Homo sapiens: one gene and its partners. The protein of the gene in region 1 purifies or fractionates together with the protein of each later gene. This does not show direct contact. Each region holds a gene or a part of one and is shown on either strand. Other genes may lie near its edges.

What was found. The genes of interacting proteins can lie anywhere in the genome.
Region 2: the proteins of PARD6B (region 1) and LLGL1 purify together in Homo sapiens (affinity purification with mass spectrometry; 7 studies listed by BioGRID and IntAct, with this or other methods). This does not show direct contact.
Region 3: the proteins of PARD6B (region 1) and KBTBD7 purify together in Homo sapiens (affinity purification with mass spectrometry; 4 studies listed by BioGRID and IntAct, with this or other methods). This does not show direct contact.

What each region holds. Positions count from the first base shown.
Region 1 is NC_000020.11:50,733,748-50,742,367, reverse strand, and holds part of PARD6B (partitioning defective 6 homolog beta), read right to left. Parts: intron 4,512-8,620; coding exon 4,289-4,511; intron 1-4,288. UniProt on the Homo sapiens protein: Adapter protein involved in asymmetrical cell division and cell polarization processes. Probably involved in formation of epithelial tight junctions.
Region 2 is NC_000017.11:18,242,635-18,246,184, reverse strand, and holds the end of LLGL1 (lethal(2) giant larvae protein homolog 1), read right to left. Parts: intron 3,443-3,550; coding exon 3,364-3,442; 3' UTR 3,363-3,363; intron 2,278-3,362; coding exon of another isoform or gene 2,136-2,277; 3' UTR 1,310-2,135; downstream 1-1,309. Other genes in the region: FLII (protein flightless-1 homolog), read left to right, coding at 1-23, 123-251, 335-441, 525-630, 766-1,047. UniProt on the Homo sapiens protein: Cortical cytoskeleton protein found in a complex involved in maintaining cell polarity and epithelial integrity. Involved in the regulation of mitotic spindle orientation, proliferation, differentiation and tissue organization of neuroepithelial cells.
Region 3 is NC_000013.11:41,190,761-41,198,630, forward strand, and holds the start of KBTBD7 (kelch repeat and BTB domain-containing protein 7), read right to left. Parts: upstream 3,810-7,870; 5' UTR 3,498-3,809; coding exon 1,443-3,497; 3' UTR 1-1,442. UniProt on the Homo sapiens protein: As part of the CUL3(KBTBD6/7) E3 ubiquitin ligase complex functions as a substrate adapter for the RAC1 guanine exchange factor (GEF) TIAM1, mediating its 'Lys-48' ubiquitination and proteasomal degradation.

The DNA of each region.
Region 1 (8,620 bases):
AATAAAATAAAATAAATCACTTGGGGCCAGGCACGGCGGCTCCCACCTGTAAACCCAGCACTTTGGGAGGCCGAGGTGGGCGGATCACTTGAGGTCAGGAGTTTGAGAACAGTCTGGCCAACATGGCAAAACCCTGTCTCTACTAAAAATACAAAAATTAGCTGGGCGTGGTGGCACGCATCTGTAGTCCCAGCCACTCTGGAAGCTGAGGCACAAGAACCTGGGAGGCGGAGGTTGCAGTGAGTGGAGGTCACGCCCCTGCATTCCAGCCTGGGTGACAGAGCAAGACTTAAAACAAAACAAAACAAAACACCAGTACATATTAAGTGTAACTTCTGCCTTACTGATGCCTAACTGAAATCAAAAAGCAAACAGAAAATGTGCTGTAATCAAGCAGTAAAATGTAACTATACTTAATGTCATACTTTATATTAGTTCCTTGAATTAAATGTTCATTAAGGTTTACATAAAATCAGATTTCTAGTTAAGCATCTGCTCAACTTTGCTTAAAAGACAGAGTGCGGCCGGGCGCGGTGGCTCACGCCTGTAATCCCAGCACTTTGGGAGGCCGAGACGGGCGGATCACGAAGTCAGGAGATCGAGACCATCCTGGCTAACACAGTGAAATCCCGTCTCTACTAACAATACAAAAAAAAAAATTAGCCGGGTGTGTTGGCGGGCTCCTGTAGTCCCAGCTACTCAGAGGCTGAGGCAGGAGAATGGTGTGGAGCTTGCAGTGAGCCGAGATCGCGCCACTGCACTCCAGCCTGGGGGACAGAGCTAGACTCCGTCCCCACTCCACAAAAAAAAGAGTGCATGCATTATAGTACACTAAGTAAGTCTGCCAGATTTAGATGCTGCGACCTGATGGTAAACCAGACAGACAGGAAACAAGTTAACATATTCTTAAATAAGATATTTCCAGGTCTTCAGAGGATGATGTGGTAAAGGTGGGAAGGTGGAGGGCTTTAGTTAGGGTAGTCAGAAGAGACTCCTCTGACAAACTTATCTGAGCTAAGCAGGAGGAGGCAGACGTGGGAAGAACCGAGGGTGAAGTGTCCTTAAGAATAACCAAGCATAAGAGCACAGAAACAGAAACAAGCTAACGGCTGGGTGCAGTGGCTCACACCTGTAATCCCAGAACACTTCGAGGCCAAGACGGGTGGATCACCTGAGGTCAGGAGTTCGAGACCAGCCTGGCCAACATGGTGACACCCCATCTCTACTAAAAATACAAAAATTAGCCAGGCATGGTGGCATGCACCTGTAGTCTCAGCTACTCAGGAGGCTGAGGCAGGACAATCACTTGAACCTGGGAAGCAGAGGTTGCAGTGAGCCGAGATTGCACCACTGCACTCCAGCCTGGGTGACAGAGCAAGACTCCATCTCAAAAAAAAAAAAAAAAAGAAACAAGCTCATCAAGTCTGAGGAACAGGAAGGAAGCCAGTGTGGCTGACTGTGATGAGGGAGTGAGAGAATGAGGGAAGATGAGGTTGGGAAGTCCAAATCAGAAGGGATTTTATTCTGGTTGCAATGGGAAATCATCAGAGGGTTTTAAGCAGGAATGAACTGACTACCTACTTTCATTTTTGCTAAAGTCATATTTGTATTAAATTTATATTTTTAAAATCTAAAATATTTCTGTTGAATTGCCTATTTCTAAATCAAATTCTAAGGGCTATCAATTATATTGGACATTTTACCATTAATAAATAGAAAACATTTGCACATAGAAACATATTTCTAAGTTGTAATTCCTATGACAACAATAAAAACCATCAAAGGTCTCAATAAAAATTATACCACCAATAAATAAAAACTTAGAAAGGAAATAAAAGATAACTACCCTTAAAAGATGTTAGGATTAATTCCATAATCATGCAAGAGTATAATTCCATTAACAAAACATGTGGTGGTATAACTCAACTGTCATAATCTTTCTACCAAAGGGGATAATCCAACAAAATTCTGTCACATGGCAATACTTTAAAAACCCACTCTATATTTGAATGCACATCCAAACAGCAACTAACTTTTTAAAGAAAATTACAATTGCTAACAAGAAAGGCCTATTATTCAACCATAATTATTTAAATTCTTCCTCCTTTTCCAGCACTCTATATATAGCTTTCCAAGGTTCTATCCATGGTCTTCATCTCAGATAGCCTTTATGTCTACTCCCAAAATTTTAACTATCACTTTTCAAAAAGCTTGCAAATCTAACTAGTTTTTGGATTTCTACCCTGAACTTTTGTCTACCATTTCTAATCTTCTGAATGACTGGTTAAGATTATTTGTCCTAAGACAAAATTCATAATTTTCTTTTCCAAATCAATCTACTCTGCTTGTTCATGACACTGTCCCAGCTGTCAGACTCAAACCATCAAGATATGCTCTGCTGGACTCTCCTTCACTGCAAAGCAGCCACAGTGAGTGCAATGACTCCCAAGTATTTCCCCTCCTACCTTCCCGCCACTGCCTTCTCCCCTCCCCCCACCCTTCCCCTCTACTTCTAGGCCAGTCTCCTCACTTCTTTACCGCCTGCTCCTGGCTCTCTACTGTAAGACTGCTGCCCACTCCAATTCATCCTGAACAGCCAACTGAATCTTCCTAAGGTCATACTCTCATTATATCGCATTCCTGTTAATTACCTTTGAGATCCATCTCAGGAAACTTTGGGAACATTAATTTGTGTGTGAAAGTATTTTGTAAAATAGTCAAGTGATATAGGCAGAGGTTATCCTTGGAGGTTTATTTTGTTGGTGGACTTTAGTTCCTCCAAACCCAGGAAAGCAAAGATACATAATCAGTGGAATTCCAGAGCCCTGGGAGTGGTCTAATGCTTATCAACTGATTAGAAATAGTTTTCACCTTCAAAGATAATCCCCACCCATTCTCTCAAGCTACTTTCTTTTCAAAAAAATTTTTTTGAGGAGTCTTGCTCTGTTGCCCAGGCTGGAGTGCAGTGGTACGATCTCGGCTCACTGCAACCTCCACCTCCTGGCTGATTCTCCTGCCTCAGCCTCCTGAATAGCTGGGATTACAGACATGTGCCACCATGCCCAGCTAATTTTTGTATTTTTAGTAGAGATGGGGTTTCACCATGTTAGCCATGCTAGTCATGAACTTCTGACCTCAGATGATCCGCCCGCCTCCACCTCCCAAAGTGCTGGGATTACACACGTGAGCCACCAAGCCTGGCCGCTCTCAAGCTACTTTCTGGGTTGGCTTATAAATACCGTAAGTCTTTAATTTATCCCAATACCAGGCTTGATGCTCTCATGCTGGCTTCCCAAACCACTTCATTTACAATTGAGAAAGGAAAAAATGGTACATACCATAATAAGCCCTACCCTGCCTATCTGCAGACACACATACATACACACACAAAGGCTACGAGATTAAAAAAAAAAAGTTTTAGGACTCAAAATACATTTGAAAATTCTTGGCTGAGCATGGTGGCTCATGCCTATAATCCCAGCACTTTGAGAGGCAGGGACTGGAGGATCACCGGAGACCAGGCAACATAGTAAGACCCAGTCTTTACAAAAAAAGAAAGAAAGAAAGTTATTGCCAAATAGTGATTTCAATTTTTTTGGAAGACTAATTAATATCAGTGTTTACATCCTTCCACAATAGTAACTTCCCACCTCATTTTCCAGATAATTAACTAGTTTTATACAATTTCTTTAAAAAGTATCCTAAAAGTAAAAGAAAGAAAGTATTTACTGGGTGCTTACTATAAGCCAGGGCACTGCACTTAGCTCATTTAATCCTCATAGTAATTCTACAAAATATTATAATCTTTCTATAGGTGCAGACATTGAGACTCAGGAAGATTAAATGGCTTTGTTTCTGGTATTTATTAACTGGTAAATACAGCCTTTGAAAGTTGGTTGCCACCAAAAAACAGGAATGCTTTGGATTCCAAAGTCACACTCTTTTCACATTTTTCTGAGTGGAGAATAATCCATTTGATAAAGTGAAGATTCAATAAATTCCCAATATTCAATAAATTCCCAATTTCTACTTAAGGAAAAATAAAACCAAAGAGGTTAACACAAAAGTAACTAGAAATATAAATTTTCTAAAGTACACTTAGTGAAGCATAAAGATATTAATTAAACCAACAATATCACAAATGTTTTAACCCACATGTTAGTTAACATAAGAAGATTCACACAAAATGTTTATTCACTAAGTTTGTGGCAAAGTCTGGGTATCCTTTCAGTGGGGAAAATACACTATTTCTATTTCTAACACAATTTTTCTAAACAGTGATACTTACCCTTCTTTTGTATAAATATCCTAAGCAGTGGATTGGCCGTTGAAACAGCTTTGTGATAATTATCATCATTATTTATAGGTAGTAAGTCTCCATGGATGTCTGCATAGCCTACCAAAACGTCAACATTGGGGATCTTATGAACATGTTGTAGTAATCCATAAAACTCCTCAAATTTTCCAGGTTTTGATCTTTCCAGCGAAAACCGACGAAATTCAGCTCCAAACTATAAACGTAACAAACATATTACTTAAAAAAAAAAAAAAAAGTAAAAGGACCCAATTTGAAAATGCATGCCATAGAAAAATTAACGAGCAGAGCAAGTATTTTTAATTAAGGAAAGATTGTCTATTGTGAAGAACCTTACTATCAGGGATTTTAAAAAGCCTAAGAAAGGCACAAGAATGTGCCTCCTGACTGCTGTGTCTCTGAAGAGCATTCCTTTCAAGAGAGGCAGGCTCAACTCTATCTATCCCTGGGGTACCTAGGCCTTACTGCGGACTGTTCTGCATAGTGACTCAGCTCAAACCCTGTCTGGAGCCCAGACTCTGACGGCAATGCTCTCCTCAGGTGCATCATGGGGTACCAAAGACTTGTCCAAGTCCTTATTTTGACCAAAGGAAAGCATTTAAGTGTCCTCCCCCATAAATGGAACTAGGATTTCATGGTATGTGGTAAGAATCAACAGCAAAATATACAAAAAGAACTGTGAGCTACGTGGCGTTAAGGTATGATCTTCCCTATGTTAATGCAGAAAAAAATAAGCTTCAGTAATACATCAAATGTATGTCCTATAACTATCCAATTAACGCACAAAGTGTTTATGTGTTTGGCACAGTGCTAGGCCCTAGAGATTGAAAGCCTCGAGCCTGCTCCAGAAGCTCACCAATTAGTGGGTAAAGAGAATAATTACTTCAGGGAGGTATTAAGAGATCACACAAATGGGGCGGAATGGGGAGGAAGACAGCCTCCATCATGCCCAATACTTACCTTCACAGTTCTGATTCTGAAGTCTGTTTCCCTACACCTCTGTTTTCCCAATGTCAAATAATTAAAAGTGACTCTTATTCAACACTAAGAACTGAGGCCAGGCGCGATGGCTCACATCTGTAATCCCAGCACTTTGAGAGGCTGAGGCGGGAGGATCACAAGGTCAGGAGTTCAAAACCAGCCTAGCCAACATGGCAAAACCCGTCTCTACTAAAAATACAAAAATTAGCCAGGTGTGGTGGCACATGCCTGTAGTCCCAACTACTCAGGAGGCTGAGGCAGGAGACTCTCTTGAATCTGGGAGGCAGAGGTTGCAGTGAGTCGAGATCATGCCACTGTACTCCAGCCTGGGCAACAGAGCAAGACTCCGTCTCAAAAAAGAAAAAAAAAAAAAAAACCAAAACACTAAGGACTGGCTTCATCTAGTCCATGATAAACAGGATTTATAACACTGTGGGAATAACATGGCATTTCCTCAAACGTGGAAACCTAAGAAAAGTTAATCTGCCTTCCTCAAAAAGTGTCCCAGTCATGTAAGTTTGAGAAACGCTACATAATTATGCTCTTGGGAATCACTGCGGAGACCAGCACTTTAAAGGCTCATTTAAGCCCTATGTTGGTTTTTAAAAATATTTAAACGAACGTTTGCCTAATGTGTTTAACCACTGAACTCATATTTCTTCCACCTATCTATTACTAGCAAGAAATACTAATGTAAAAATATTATGTCCCAGAGAAAAAAGGAAAAGAGAAATACTGTTGGTACAGCCTTAAGCATCATGTAGAGAAAGCCCCTACCATAATAATTTGAGTTTACAAATATGTCACTTCATTTTCCCAAAGGTCCCATGGGACATCTGGATTCACTGGTTTTGCTCTATCTAAAGTTCACCTGCTCTGCTTACACCCATACTCCTCAGTGGTTTTAACATCAAAACTCACTAAAAACACCTCTTACCTCTAACAAAAATTAAAATAGTTCCCAAAACACATTCCTGAAACATAAACACTAACATCTGTCAAGAAAATAAGGTGACTCATACCTAAGGCTCTCAAAAAGTTTAGTCACACCTTCACATTTCAAAGTAAATAAAAACTCAGGGAACACCCTTCATATCAGTTAGTCTCATGATGTTATCAAAAGTCACAGTTTCTCCTCCATTTTCTTTATTCTGGTATCACAACATGAAGTTGCTAGTGCTTGCTGATTCATCCACAGGGTTTATCACTTCCCCTGATGTATGAATGGGAATAACATCTGATCATTTAACATTTTAGGGCTTCAATGTTTTTGTTAAAGCTTTTGGATGAAATTTCTTCGCTCAATATTTTCTCTTGCTTAACTGTTATGATAAAAACAATAAAAAATTGTATGGCTTCATGGTATATTTGCACTTTTGCCAATATTGGCATGGGAAAAAAAAACCCAAGAGAAATTGTTATGCTTCTTGCAACACAACAATAGGATTAAGGGAACTTTTTACATGAACAAAAACACTAAGAGACAAAATTAAGATTCAATCAGCAATTATTCACTTGTGAACCATTTACAACTGTTTCATAGCCTAGTTTGCCCTAGCCATCCAGAATGTGTATGGACTCCCTTCCCCCAGTGTCTGTTGGTACATTCTAGAAATGCAAACTTAATTTTCATAGTCTATTTGCCTATGAATAATAATTAGGAAATTTTATGACTCAAAGACTGTTCCAGGGTTATTAAAGGACATCATCAAGATTATTGATTAAGAATCTTCCCAACACTAGAGATACAATTAGGAAGATAAAACAGTTACCAAAGAAAAGTCACATACTAGCTGGTACCACAAATTGAACTATAGGTATATTTACATTCTCCATTCTTTTATCATTACTATTTTTCCCTTCCACGTGTGAAGATAATAATGTTGACACTACTGCTTTATTGCATTTTTTTATTTTTTTGAGACAGAGTCTCCCTCTGTCACCCAGGCTCTGAAGTGCAGTGGCGCAATCTCGGCTCACTGCAACCTCCGCCTCCCAGGTTCAAGCAATTCTCCTGCATCAGCCTCCGGAGTAGCTGGGATTACAGGCATATGCCATCACGCCCCACTAATTTTTATATTTTTAGTAGATACAGGGTTTCACCGTGTTGGCCAGGCTGGTCTTGAACTCCTGACCTCAGGTGATCCGCCCACCTTGCCCTCCCAAAGTGCTAGGATTACAGGTGTGAGCCACCATGCCTGGCCAACATTACTGTTTATATGAAGAAAAAGAGATCCTAAAAATGGACCGGAACCCAGTGTGGTGGCTAATGCCTATAATCCAAACACTTTGGGAGGCCTAGGTGGGAATATCACTTGAGCTCAGGAGTTAGAGACCAACATGACCAACATGGCAAAACCCTGTCTCTAAAAAGATAAAAAAAAATTGAAAATAGTAAGAGAAAAATGGACCAGCTAGGTGCAGTGGCTCACGCCTGTAGTCCCAGTACTTTGAGAGGTAGAGACGGGCGGATCACTAGAGCTCAGGTGTTCAAGATCAGACTGGGCAACATGGAGAGACCCCATCTCTACAAAATAAATAAATAAATAAATAAATAAATAAGCTGGGTGTAGTGGTGCACGCCTGTAGTCTTGCTACTCAGGAGGCTGAAATCGGAGAATCGCTTGAGCTCAGGAGGTTGAGGCTGCAGTGAGCCGTGATCGTGCCATTGTACTCCAGCCCGGGTGACAGAGCAAGATCCTGTCTCAAAAAAAAAAGGACCGGCACACTACCTAGTTTTGGTTATAAACTCTTAGCAATCAGTTTTGTAAAAAGCTGTGGTATCACTAAAGCAATGTCAAAGAAAATACTGTTTCAAAAACCCTTCCAAATATTTTTTAAATGGTTAAGGTGACAAATGTTTCAATCTACTGAAAATAAATGTATCAGCAATATATATTTGAAACATATAAGGTGTCATAGACATACTAGAAACACTCACTACCTATATCTTGCCTATTTGTCAACAGCTAGAATAGTGGGACCGACTTCATTCAGCACATGTTCCTAGAATCAGTGTATGATTCTATTTAAAAGACACAGTTAGCTGAAAGTGCAGTATGGCAGTTCAAATATACAACATGTAGTTTAGACAGAAGTAAGTGAAAGATTCACAAATCAGTTGACAAGAGAAAGGCAAAAAGCCTGAAATTCCAGTTTTAAAGCACTCAAGGTTTCTTAGTACTAGAGATAAATTACTATTTGATTGTATTTATCAGTATACTTAGAATTCCTACTCATTTTTTTCTGTGGAAAAAAATTAAAGACTTGCTACCAAGATTAGGGCTATAAACTTAAAATTTTAAGATTATGCAATATCACAAG
Region 2 (3,550 bases), on another chromosome or scaffold:
CCGAGTTCTGCTTCATCCTCAAGGTGGGGTTGTGGGTGTGAGCCAGGACTCCGTGGACCAAGGGGTGGGGTGTTTGGGGGCTGAGTCAGCTGCGAACACCCCCACCCCTGCACACTCCCCAGGTTCCCTTTGAGAGTGAGGACAACCAGGGCATCGTGTATGCCTGGGTGGGCCGGGCATCAGACCCTGACGAAGCCAAGTTGGCAGAAGACATCCTGAACACCATGTTTGACACCTCCTACAGCAAGCAGGTCAGGAGGCGGGCGGGCAGGCGGGCACACACAGAGGAGCCAGGGCAGGCAGGGGCCCTGGGCTGGACTGGCCTTTCCCGCAGGTTATCAACGAAGGTGAGGAGCCTGAGAACTTCTTCTGGGTGGGCATTGGGGCACAGAAGCCCTATGATGACGATGCCGAGTACATGAAACACACACGTCTCTTCCGGTGAGGCCAGGGCCCTGACCCTCCCCTCAGTCCTGGCACTGCTGCTTATGACCTCTGGCCTCACCTTGACCCTTGATTCCCAGGTGCTCCAACGAGAAGGGCTACTTTGCAGTGACTGAGAAATGCTCCGACTTTTGCCAAGATGACCTGGCAGATGATGACATCATGTTGCTAGACAATGGCCAAGAGGTGTGATGTTGCCACTAGCCCTGCCCATCCAAGGAGGCGCCCATAGACTTACTTACAAATGGGAATTCTCGGGCCAGGAGCAAGGGGCTGTTCCCAGGCACCCATGCAACCGTATCTCCCCTGCTGCCCCCACAGGTCTACATGTGGGTGGGGACCCAGACTAGCCAGGTGGAGATCAAGCTGAGCCTGAAGGCCTGCCAGGTAATCTGGGTGGAGGGAGGGCCGAGGTGGGCCTGTGGGCAGGGCAGGGTCATCACCCAAGGCTCGCTGTCCCCTTGCCAGGTATATATCCAGCACATGCGGTCCAAGGAACATGAGCGGCCGCGCCGGCTGCGCCTGGTCCGCAAGGGCAATGAGCAGCACGCCTTTACCCGCTGCTTCCACGCCTGGAGCGCCTTCTGCAAGGCCCTGGCCTAAGACAGGCTGGCACAGCCCCAGGCTTGGTGAGGAAGAGGAAGGGGCCTCATCCACTGTCTGCTAGCAAAGAATGTACTCAGGTGACACCACCTGCTCCAGCCACGTCCAGTGCCACAGTCCCCAGTAGCCTCAAGCAGCACCAATGGGGATGACCCTGACAGGTGCCCTCAGGGGTCTGGGAAATCCAACTCTCTCCACAGTGTGAGTGCACGTGTGAAGCCCCCTCACTCTTCCGCTAGGGATAAAGCAGATGTGGATGCCCTTTAAGAGATATTAAATGCTTTTATTTTCAATATTAAAAATCAGTATTTTTAATATTAAAATGGCGCTAATTTTAACAAAACGACAGAAAAAAACCCCAAGGTACAATCTACAGGGAAACTCATCTTGACCCCCCCCCCTGCCCCCCCCCCCCGCCGGACACACACACCTGACTAGGCCCCAGATGTGGGTGCCCAGCAGAGCTCCCAGTCACATCCATGCCCGCACACACACACTCATGACAGGCTGGGGACTGGCCCAGAAGCAGGTACCAAAATAGTTTAGTTTTAGAAACAACTGTCCAGCCCAGGCGCTAGAAAAATACTCTTTGCAGGGCTGGGCATGGTGGCTCACGCCTGTAATCCCAGCACTTTGGGAGGCTGAGGTGGGTGGATCACGAGGTCAGGAGATCGAGACCATCCTGGCTAACATGGTGAAACCCCATCTCTACTAAAAATACAGAAAAAATTAGCTGGGCGTGGTGGTGGGCGCCTGTAGTCCCAGCTACTTGGGAGGCTGAGGCAGAAGAATGGCGGGAACCCAGAAGGCGGGGCTTGCAGTGAGCAGAGATGGGGCCACTGCACTCCAGCCTGGGCGACAGAGCAAGACTCCGTCTTTAAGAAAAAAAAAAAAAAGGAAAAATACTCTGCAAAGTGAGGGGGAAGGATGGTGTGTGGAGGGGGGGAGGTGGCACAGGTGCTGGGCCCCACCTGTCCTCTTCCCTAGGCAGTGGGCCCCCAGGGCAGCCAAATGCCTGCAGGAGGGCTCAGTTCTGGCCCAGGTCCCAGGCCCACACCCTGGGGCTGGTGCTGCTCCAGGGCCCAGGGTCAGGCGGGACAGGACAGCAGGTCCCAGTGGAGCCTACAGGTTAGCAGGCGTGGTTCTATGTTAAGGGGCCAGGCAGGTGCCAGGGATCCAGCACTCCAGCTCCGAGCAGGGCAGGTGGAGGTCGGGATAGTTCTGGCCTTCCTGGAAGAGGGAGAGAAGAGGTATCAGCAGAAGGTGAGGGAGGGCAAAAGGGCAGATGGATTGCCACAGCGGCCAGACCACACAGGTGCTGCCACTGTCTCCTCTGCAGGGCAGGCATGGCCCTTCAGTGACCACCTGAGATGGGCTTGCTGAGTCTCCAGATGGGTATCCAAGCGCCAGGCCACATATGCCCCACTGAGGCCAGGGAGAGGCACCAGACAAAGAGCTGGGAGGTGTCCATGTCCTGTGCAGGGTGAGGCTATGGCCTACAGTCAGGTGCCTGGGAACATGAGGCAGCAAATGCGCTGGGCAGATCTATGGGCCCCACATCTAGGTGAGGATCCACAGACTCAGGCAGGGGTAAGTCAGCCACTTGCTGGGCCCAACCGATGAGACCTGACCTCGTGCACCTCAGTGATCTCATCTATGAAACAGGCTGGCCAAACCAGCTCCCAAGCCCCAAACTACTGCCACCTCTAAGTGGTTTAATCTGGTCTTGTTGGCCGGGTGCGGTGGCTCACGCCTGTAATCCCAGGACTTAGGGAGGCCGAGGCGGGTGGATCATGAGGTCAGGAGATCGAGACCATCCTGGCTAACACAGTGAAACCCCGTCTCTACTAAAAACACAAAAAATTAGCTGGGTGTGGTGGCGGGCGCCTGTAGTCCCAGCTGCTCAGGAGGCTGAGGCAGGAGAATGGCATGAACCCAGGAGGCAGAGGTTGCAGTGAGCCAAGATCACGCCACTGCACTCCAGCCTGGGCGACAGAGCAAGACTCCGTCTCAAAAACAAAACAAAACAAAACAAAACAAAACAAATCTGGTCTTGTCCTAACCACCACCTGTCACATGCAAGGGCTGAGGGGCTGGCCCTGCTTTTCTAATACCCAACCATGACACTGGTGTCTGTGTGAGCACCAGAAGTCCCCAATTGAGGCACTCCATGGAAGGCAGCCAGGTTTCAGAGAGTGCCATCACATGGGCCTGCCAGGGTCTCAGGTAGAAGACCAGGGCCAAATGGTACCCAGACGGGCTGAAGGGGGTGGACGTCACCAGTGGTGAGGACCAGGGCCCCACCCCTGCAGCACCTCATTTGATCAGGATGGCACAGGCGTGGGCCTCGTCTTCTGCCAGGTTCCTCAGGTTCTTCTCTGACTCCTCAGAGGAGCTGCGAGATGGGGATGGTGCTCAGGGGTGGGGGCGGGGGAGCCCCTGGCAGCCCTGGGGACGGAGGCCTAGGGGACAGGGCAGCCCCCCCTGTGGACCTGCCCACCAG
Region 3 (7,870 bases), on another chromosome or scaffold:
CCTTACATATGGTGACAGAGAGACTGAAACATTGTTCACAGAGAAACACAGAACATATACAAATCTCATAATAAAATAACCATGTATACCACTGTTTAGGGAAATATTTTAGAGGAAACATACTTTCACTACTGGCCCCAAATCCCATCATCCACTTAGGTTCTTCAATGTCAACTTTTAATACAAAAATACCTTCAAGCTGATAATTAAGAACATTCACAATGACTTACAAAATGGACAATATTCCAATGCTACACAAAACGGTTCTATAATACACAGCTTAAAGTTTTAAAGTTCTTGGCTGGCAGTTGATTTTTTTTATAGCTGATAGACACGATAACTACTGATCTGAGTAAAATACTGTTTTTAGCTTATACATATGTTCTAAACCATATTACCTCACAAAACAGTAAAGAATAAATCACTTTCTGTTGAAGAATCCTCTAGGACAAACACCAAACCTACACAGCCAAAATATTTTAGGGAGGCAAGTAAACATTTTAAGACAAATCATGACCAGTGGATAAAAATTTGCATTACCCAATTATATGTCCAGGAATTGTTCCTCTGAGTCAGTAAAGCATGTATTGGGCATAAATTAAAAACACAAACATAAAAAGCAAGTTACCGTTTTTTTTTTTTTTTTTGGTTTAGAAGGGTGTTTAATTCATGACATTACTAAGAATGGGTGTTTTTTGGGATAGAAAATTGGTCACATATACCAAATACACATTTTATATTCCAAAATAAAAACTGAGATTTCTTTTAAAACAGTGGAATCCTGATTTTTTCTTTTTTTTTTTTTTTTTTTTTACTTTCTGTGAGCTTATGAGGCCATTCTGCACATTATCAAAATGAAATCATTATGCAGTAACCTTATATATATAAATCCAATTTTTTCCTTTGTAGAAGAAAACCAAAATAATTTTACAAACTACATTTAACTTAGAATATAAAGAACTGACTAGTGTAAAATTTTGAAAATCTACCACTTTATTTTGAAGGAAAGTACACATCCTTCAAAACCCCGCTAACAATTCCTAGTTCAGTTTTCTATTATACAAATCAAAAAGTTAAATTCCTTGTGGCACTAACCAAAACTTAAAAATTAACAGAAGACTGAATTAATTAAAAAAAAAGCATACTAACTAATCAAAACAATCCACTGTGCAATGAATATTTGAACAATGAAAAAAACCTACCAAGCATCCTAATCAATTATATAGTTCTTGCTTCCATATTTTAATTCTGGACTTTCAGGATGGTAAATTATTAAACAGGTCGATTTCATGGACTGTCTAAACCTTGTAGTATTTCAAAATATTACCCTTTCTAAACCAAATCTGTGGTCCTAATCAACTTTTTTTCCAAGAAAAAGAAACGATATGTGTTTAAAATACATTCCGTAGCAGTAGAAACATCTTAGTGTCTCAAAATACTATTTACAAAGAACCCTGCTGATCCTGTGCATTTCGCTGAGGTGCTACTTGCACCCAGACTTCATCATCTGAAAAAGAACTTGAACTTCCTGACTCAGAGTCCAGCTCACTGAATCCATCTAAGTCCCATTCAGTACTAGACTCACTCCGTGCATCATCTTCCTCAGTAATAAAACTCTGACCAGGTTCAAGGCAGGAAGGATAAACACGAGCACAAAGGCAAATAAAGCCAGAGTCAAACTGCAAAAGGCCTAACATGGTACCTATATTAATCCACTGATCTTCCCTAGTATCATACTCATACACTGTCACTCGGTTCTTTTTCCATTGTGGGGTTGTAGAAGTGATGAGAAGCAACTTTTGGTCATGATTGACAATCTGGTAGTTGTGGGTCTCTGAATCCAAAGGAATATTACTAATCCGCCTCCATTCTCCCCTAGCTGGGTTGTAGACCTTCATGACTGGGATGTCACAGATACAATAGATTTCATCATTGAAGACACATGCTTCCTGAAAGTCACTACGTTTAAGAGAAGCACAGTTCAGCCACATATTGTGGCTAGGATCATAGCAAAGCATGCGCTTACTGTTGACAGCATAAAGATAGTTCTGAACCACTATGAGTTCAAAGGAATAGAAGGAATGAGGGACAGGAGCCACCAATGCCCACTGGTTTCTCTGAACACTGTAGCATTCCACTTCCTTCAACTTAACTCCAGTAATAGGGTCTCGTCCCCCCAAAATGTAGATGTAGCCATTGAGATATGCCACATCCATGCCCTCACGACACAGCAAGCGATCTGCAAGTTGCTGCCAACTATTCTGAGCTGGTTTATACACCCAGAGGTCTTTCCTGGGCTGAGCAGCTAGATAGATGTCATGGTCTGGGGACACACAGACAGCTGAGGAGGTGACAGTCTTAGTGTGAGCAAAGCTGGTCAAAGGGGATGGCATTGTGTAAATGTCCCCCGAGTAAGGGTCATAGCAGAGAAAGGGATCTCTAGGATGTCCAAAGAAGATCACCATCTCCTTGGCACACATACCCAGTCTCTGGGGTGGATTTTCTGCTGCAGATACAAGAGAGTTGCTGCTGCTACTGCTGCTGCTGCTGTTTGGCACTGGCACCAGAGACTTGTACAACAGGTCACCATAGCGCATCTGCAGGGCCCCTTCAATAACGTCCAGGCAGTACTTCTTCACGATGGGCTTGGTCAGCAGCCCTTCTAAGTAGTCCTGATCTTCTTCAGTGAAGTGCATCCAGCGCACGCACTTGAAGACTTCTGCAGCACTGGGACCCCGCTCTTTGGCAGCAGCCTCCAGCCACTGCACAGCTACATGGCATACAGTCCGCTCACTCTCTATGTCCAGACTATCCAGGCGTAGGACAGCCAGCAGCTGGGCCAGGGTTAGATCTGCTAGAGTCTCCTCCCGAATTGAACCCATTCGGCTGAGCTGCTTGAAGTTGTGAGCTATGTAGGACTGGGCCTGAGATCGAAGCTTGTGATGGTCGAAGGCGTCTGCAAACTTGAGGATGGCGGTGCAGTTGGTCAGGTCAAGACGTCGGGCTAAGAAGGAGGCACAGGCTTCCCGCACATATTCCAGCTGTAGCATGTCGGAGGCCGCGTACAGGCGCTGCACATTGGCCTCACTGAGAGACACACGACCCGTGTAGCAGTAGTCGACCAACACCTCGAAGGACTCGGCGTCCACATCGTGCATGGTCACGCTGGCCTGCTGGCTCTCGTACATGCCACCTGTGAACATGCTCTTGAAGTAGGGACACGCAGCTGCTAGCACGTTGCGATTGCAGGAAAAGAGGCGACCCGTGCCAGGCCCGCTGCCAGGCGTCACCACCTCGATGGTCACATCACACAGCAGCCGCGCGTCGTAGAAGGACTTGAGCTGTGCCAGCAGGGCTGCAGAATGGGCCGTGTCCTTTAACTCCTCTGGACCCGTGAAAAAGGCCGAAACCGAGGGCTTGGAAATCCTCTTGGGCCGCCTCCCACCACGGGGACTGGCGAGGCGGCGAGAGCGCGGGACGTCTTCCCGGGACTGCATGGTGGAGATGGCGACGGGCGCTGACGGCGAGAAAGGCTGCAGGACCAGGCTCTGGCTCCTCCTCAACCTTCCCTCGCTGACGCTAAGACAAGCCGCGTCCTGGAACAGACTGCGGCACGGGCCGCACTTCTGAATTCAGCCCTATCCCGCGGTGAGGCCTCCCTTTATTGCATAGACAGTGGCTGACTCACCCTCTCTCACTCCCGCGCCCTTTCTCCGCCTCCGCTCGCCCTCACAGGACCCGCTGGCTTGCAGCCGCGGAAGCCCCCACTGCCGCGCTGGCGATCCCGCTAGGCGCCCGGGAGAACTACTGCTCCCAGGTTGCCTTTCGCGCCCCGAGGCCTGCTGGGGCTCTCGGACGGCCGGGCGGGGACAGAGGGAAAGAAACCGCTTTGCATGTTGGGAGTAGTAGTTTGTGTAATATCGCGAGCTGTCCTTTAGTTGACTGCTCTAACAGTAGAAATTAATTCTCCTGGATTTGATGGTGAAGAGACTGTTGCCCAGGCTGGTCTTGAACTCCTGAGGGCTCAAATTATCCTCCTGCCTCGGCCTCTCAATGTGCTGGGATTACAGGCGTGAGCCACCGCCCCCTGCCAGTATTTCATAGGGTTTTGTGTGGTTCAATGATACCTTACATGGGATACTTAGATACATGTATGTTTTTGGTTAGAAGAATAGTAAAGCGTTACCCCGTGCCTAGAATGTAGCCAATAACTGTTAGATTCTCTTTTATAATTTATGATAAATGAGGCACCCACTAATTTGAAACCGAGTATTATTTTAAACCGCAAAATTTTACAAAGAATTTCTAGTTTTTAATGTTTATTCCTTCGAAAGATTTTGAAGGGCATTAACAATATTTTCAATATTAAATGATATCTATTGGTCTCGTTTAATAAGGATGTCTTAGACGACTAGGTTGAGGTCCTAAAGAACAGTATTAATAGATGGTCTCAAATACGCAAATCCAGCATATAAAAATAAATTATTTGCTGCTCTCACTAACATTTCATCTCTGGAGAGCAGGAGTATTTTCGTTAAGCTCCAAATATGAGTGTTTTCAAGTCGTCTAATACAGCCTCTTTCACTGCCGTTCCACAAATCAATTAACAGATTATGTAATTCCCTTTATTAAGGAGTTTTAGGGAGTATTTTAACTCAAAATATTTCAACAAACAGACTTTGTTCTGTACAAAAGCACATGATTCTCAGAATTCAACATCAGTACATGCCCTGACATTCCTTGAATTAATATATAGTATAGTCTATGCTTTACAAAGTCTTTTATATTTGCATTGGGATCAACAGTTAAATCATCAAAATCAAGTATTAGAGATTTGAGGCAGGAAAATAGGGTCTGGAGGCAGGGAACATAAGGCTGATTCACACTTTAGCTATAACAGGAAAGATCCTCTCCATAGGGTGTATGCTGAGTAAATGAGTTTGTAACTTTACTTCATTCTCTTCATTTACATAGGGTGTACACCAAGTAACCAGTGGAATCCTCTAGAGGGTATTTAAACCTTCAGAAATTCTGTAACAGGGCCCTTGAGCCCCTATGCTCAGGCCCGCTCCCCACTGTGGAGTGTACTTTCATTTTCAGTAAATCTCTGCTTTTGTTGTTTCATTGTTTCCTTGCTTTGTTTATGTGTTTTGTCCAATTTTTTGTCCAAAACGCCAAGAACCTGGACACCCTCCACCAGTAACAGACTTTTTCAGATAACTTTTATTACAAAACCATGACTGCTCCTGCTGCTAGTTTGTTATGTTACCATAACCTAATAAAGAAAATCATCAGTGTTACATGCATGTATGGATAACACATTACAAGAGAATAACTTTCAAATTGTTTTTCTCTTATCAGCTGAAGATAACTTCAACTTATCAGCTGAAGTCCACTGGAAATACTCTAGGGTAGACACATTAAATTAAGTCAGCCTCTGGGCTCTAATAACTCCTCTGTAAATAAAAAGAGATGTTAGATATCCCTCAGATACACCAGAGAGAATCAAGTCAGTCATTATCAGTAACAATGATTGTTTCCTGACTTGCAGTGAATACCAGCTGGGGAAAAAAGCCTTTTTTTTTTCTTTTTTTTTTTTTTTTTTGAGATGGGGTCTTGCCCTGTCACCCAGGTTGGAGTGCAGTGGCACCATAATAGCTCACTGCTGCCTCAAACTCCAGTGCTCAAGCAATACTTTGCCCTCAGCCTCCCAAGTAACTAGAGCTATAGATGCATACCACCACACCCAGTTAATTAAAAAAAAATTATAGACAGGGTCTCACTGTGTTGCCAGCCTGGTCTGGAAATCTTGGTGTCAAGCACTCTTCCTGCCTGAGCCTCTGAGTTGCTGCAATTACAGGCATGAGCCACATGCCCAGCGCAGGAATGGCCATTTTAAAAAACTTCTTAAAATATTGGTAAAATATACATAACACTAAATTTACCATTTAAACATTTTCAGTGTATAGTTCTTTAGCATTAAATATATTCACACGGTTTTGCCACTATCACAAAACTGAAGCTCTGTACCCATTTAAACAATAACTCTCTAGCCCCCACTTCTGGCAACTGCCATTCTACTCTTTGTCTCTATGACTTTTGACTACTCTAGGTACCTCATATAGGCAGTGACTGATTTTTACCTTCCTTATATCTGCTCTTACTGTGTTATTTGGTTTAGGTTACCTGTCACACAATTGAAGATATCTATTAGGCACTATTCCCTAAGATCTAGAGCTATGTGCTGTCCCATAAAACTTGGGAATATTTTATATTTGTGCTGGCTGATACAGTAGCCAGAAGCCACATGTAGCTCTTGGGTACGTGAAATGTGGCTAGTGCAACTGAGGAATTAAATTTAAAATTTTAGAAATACAGCATGATACCAATGCAATTCAATGAAGAAAGAAAATTCTTTTCAACAAATGTTATTGGAACAACTGGATCAAGAATGTAAGACAGAAAGTTGCCCTTGCCCCTACCTTACACCATAAGCAAAAAATTAATTCAAAATTTCTCCTAATACTAAATGGAAAAGTGGAAACTATAAAGCTTCAAAAAGAAAACATAGGGCCGGGTGCAGTGGCTCACACCTGTAATCCCAGCACTTTGGGAGGCTGAGGCAGGCGGATCATGAGGTCAGGAGATTGAGACCATCCTGGCTAACACGGTGAAACCCTGTCTCTACTAAAAATACAAAAAATTAGCTGGGCATGGTGGCAGACACCTGTAGGCCCAGCTACTCAGGAGACTGAGGCAGGAGAATGGCATGAATCCAGGAGGCGTAACTTGCAGTGAGCCAAGATTGCGCCACTGCACTCCAGCCTGGGCGACAGAGCGAGACTCCGTCTCAGAAAAAAAAAAAAAAGAAAAGAAAAGAAAACATAGAAGACTATAGCTTTGCGGTTGGCAAAGTTTTCTTGGGACACCAAAAACACAGATCATAAAAAAAAGACAAAGTGAATTTCAAAAGTGAATTTCAACAAAATTACAAGCTGCTGCCTATGGAAAGGCAGTGAAAACAACAAAAGATAAACCACAGACTGGGAAAAAATATTGGTAACATGTATACCCGGTGGCCAATGCACATTAAATTCACAATAAGAAAACACTGAATACCCACTAGAATGCCTTAACTTAAAAACATCAATGATACTATATATTAGTGGAGATATGGAGCCGTTGGAACTCTCATATGCTAATAATAGGAATATAAATTGGTATAACCACATTAGAAAATTCTTTTGTAGTTTCTTTTAATGTTAAACGCCGTGTAATTTCACTCCCAGGCAGTTGCCTCAGGGAAATGAAAACATATATCCACAAAAACACTTGTATAAGTATCTTCATAATAGTGTTAATGACAAAGCTGGTCCTGTGAAGATGAGATTTTTCCCTGTTCTATGTCATGAAGCCAAGATGCGAAACTGAAAGTGAGCATCAAGCAGTGCAGGTTTTATTCCATGGCCATGGATTTGAGAAGCAGGAGCATGGCTCACAAATCAATTTCTCAGCTTCTGAGAGCCGGGAAGTCATAGATATAGGGCATCTTTAATGAAGGGGATGGGTATTAAAAGCAAGGGGTGGGGCTGGGCACAGTGGCTCACACCTGTAATTCCAGCACTTTGGGAGGCCAAGGCGGGCAGATCACTTGAGCCCAGGAGTTCCAGATCAGCCTGGGGAACATGGTGAAACCCCGTCTCTACTAAAATACAAAAATTAGCTGGATGTGGTGACGGACACCTGTAATCCCAGCTACTCAGGAGGCTGAGGCAGGAGAATCACTTGAATCTGGGAGGCAGAGGTTGCAGTGAGCCCAGATCACACCACTGGACTCCAGCCTGGGCAACAGAGCAAGACTCCTTCTCAA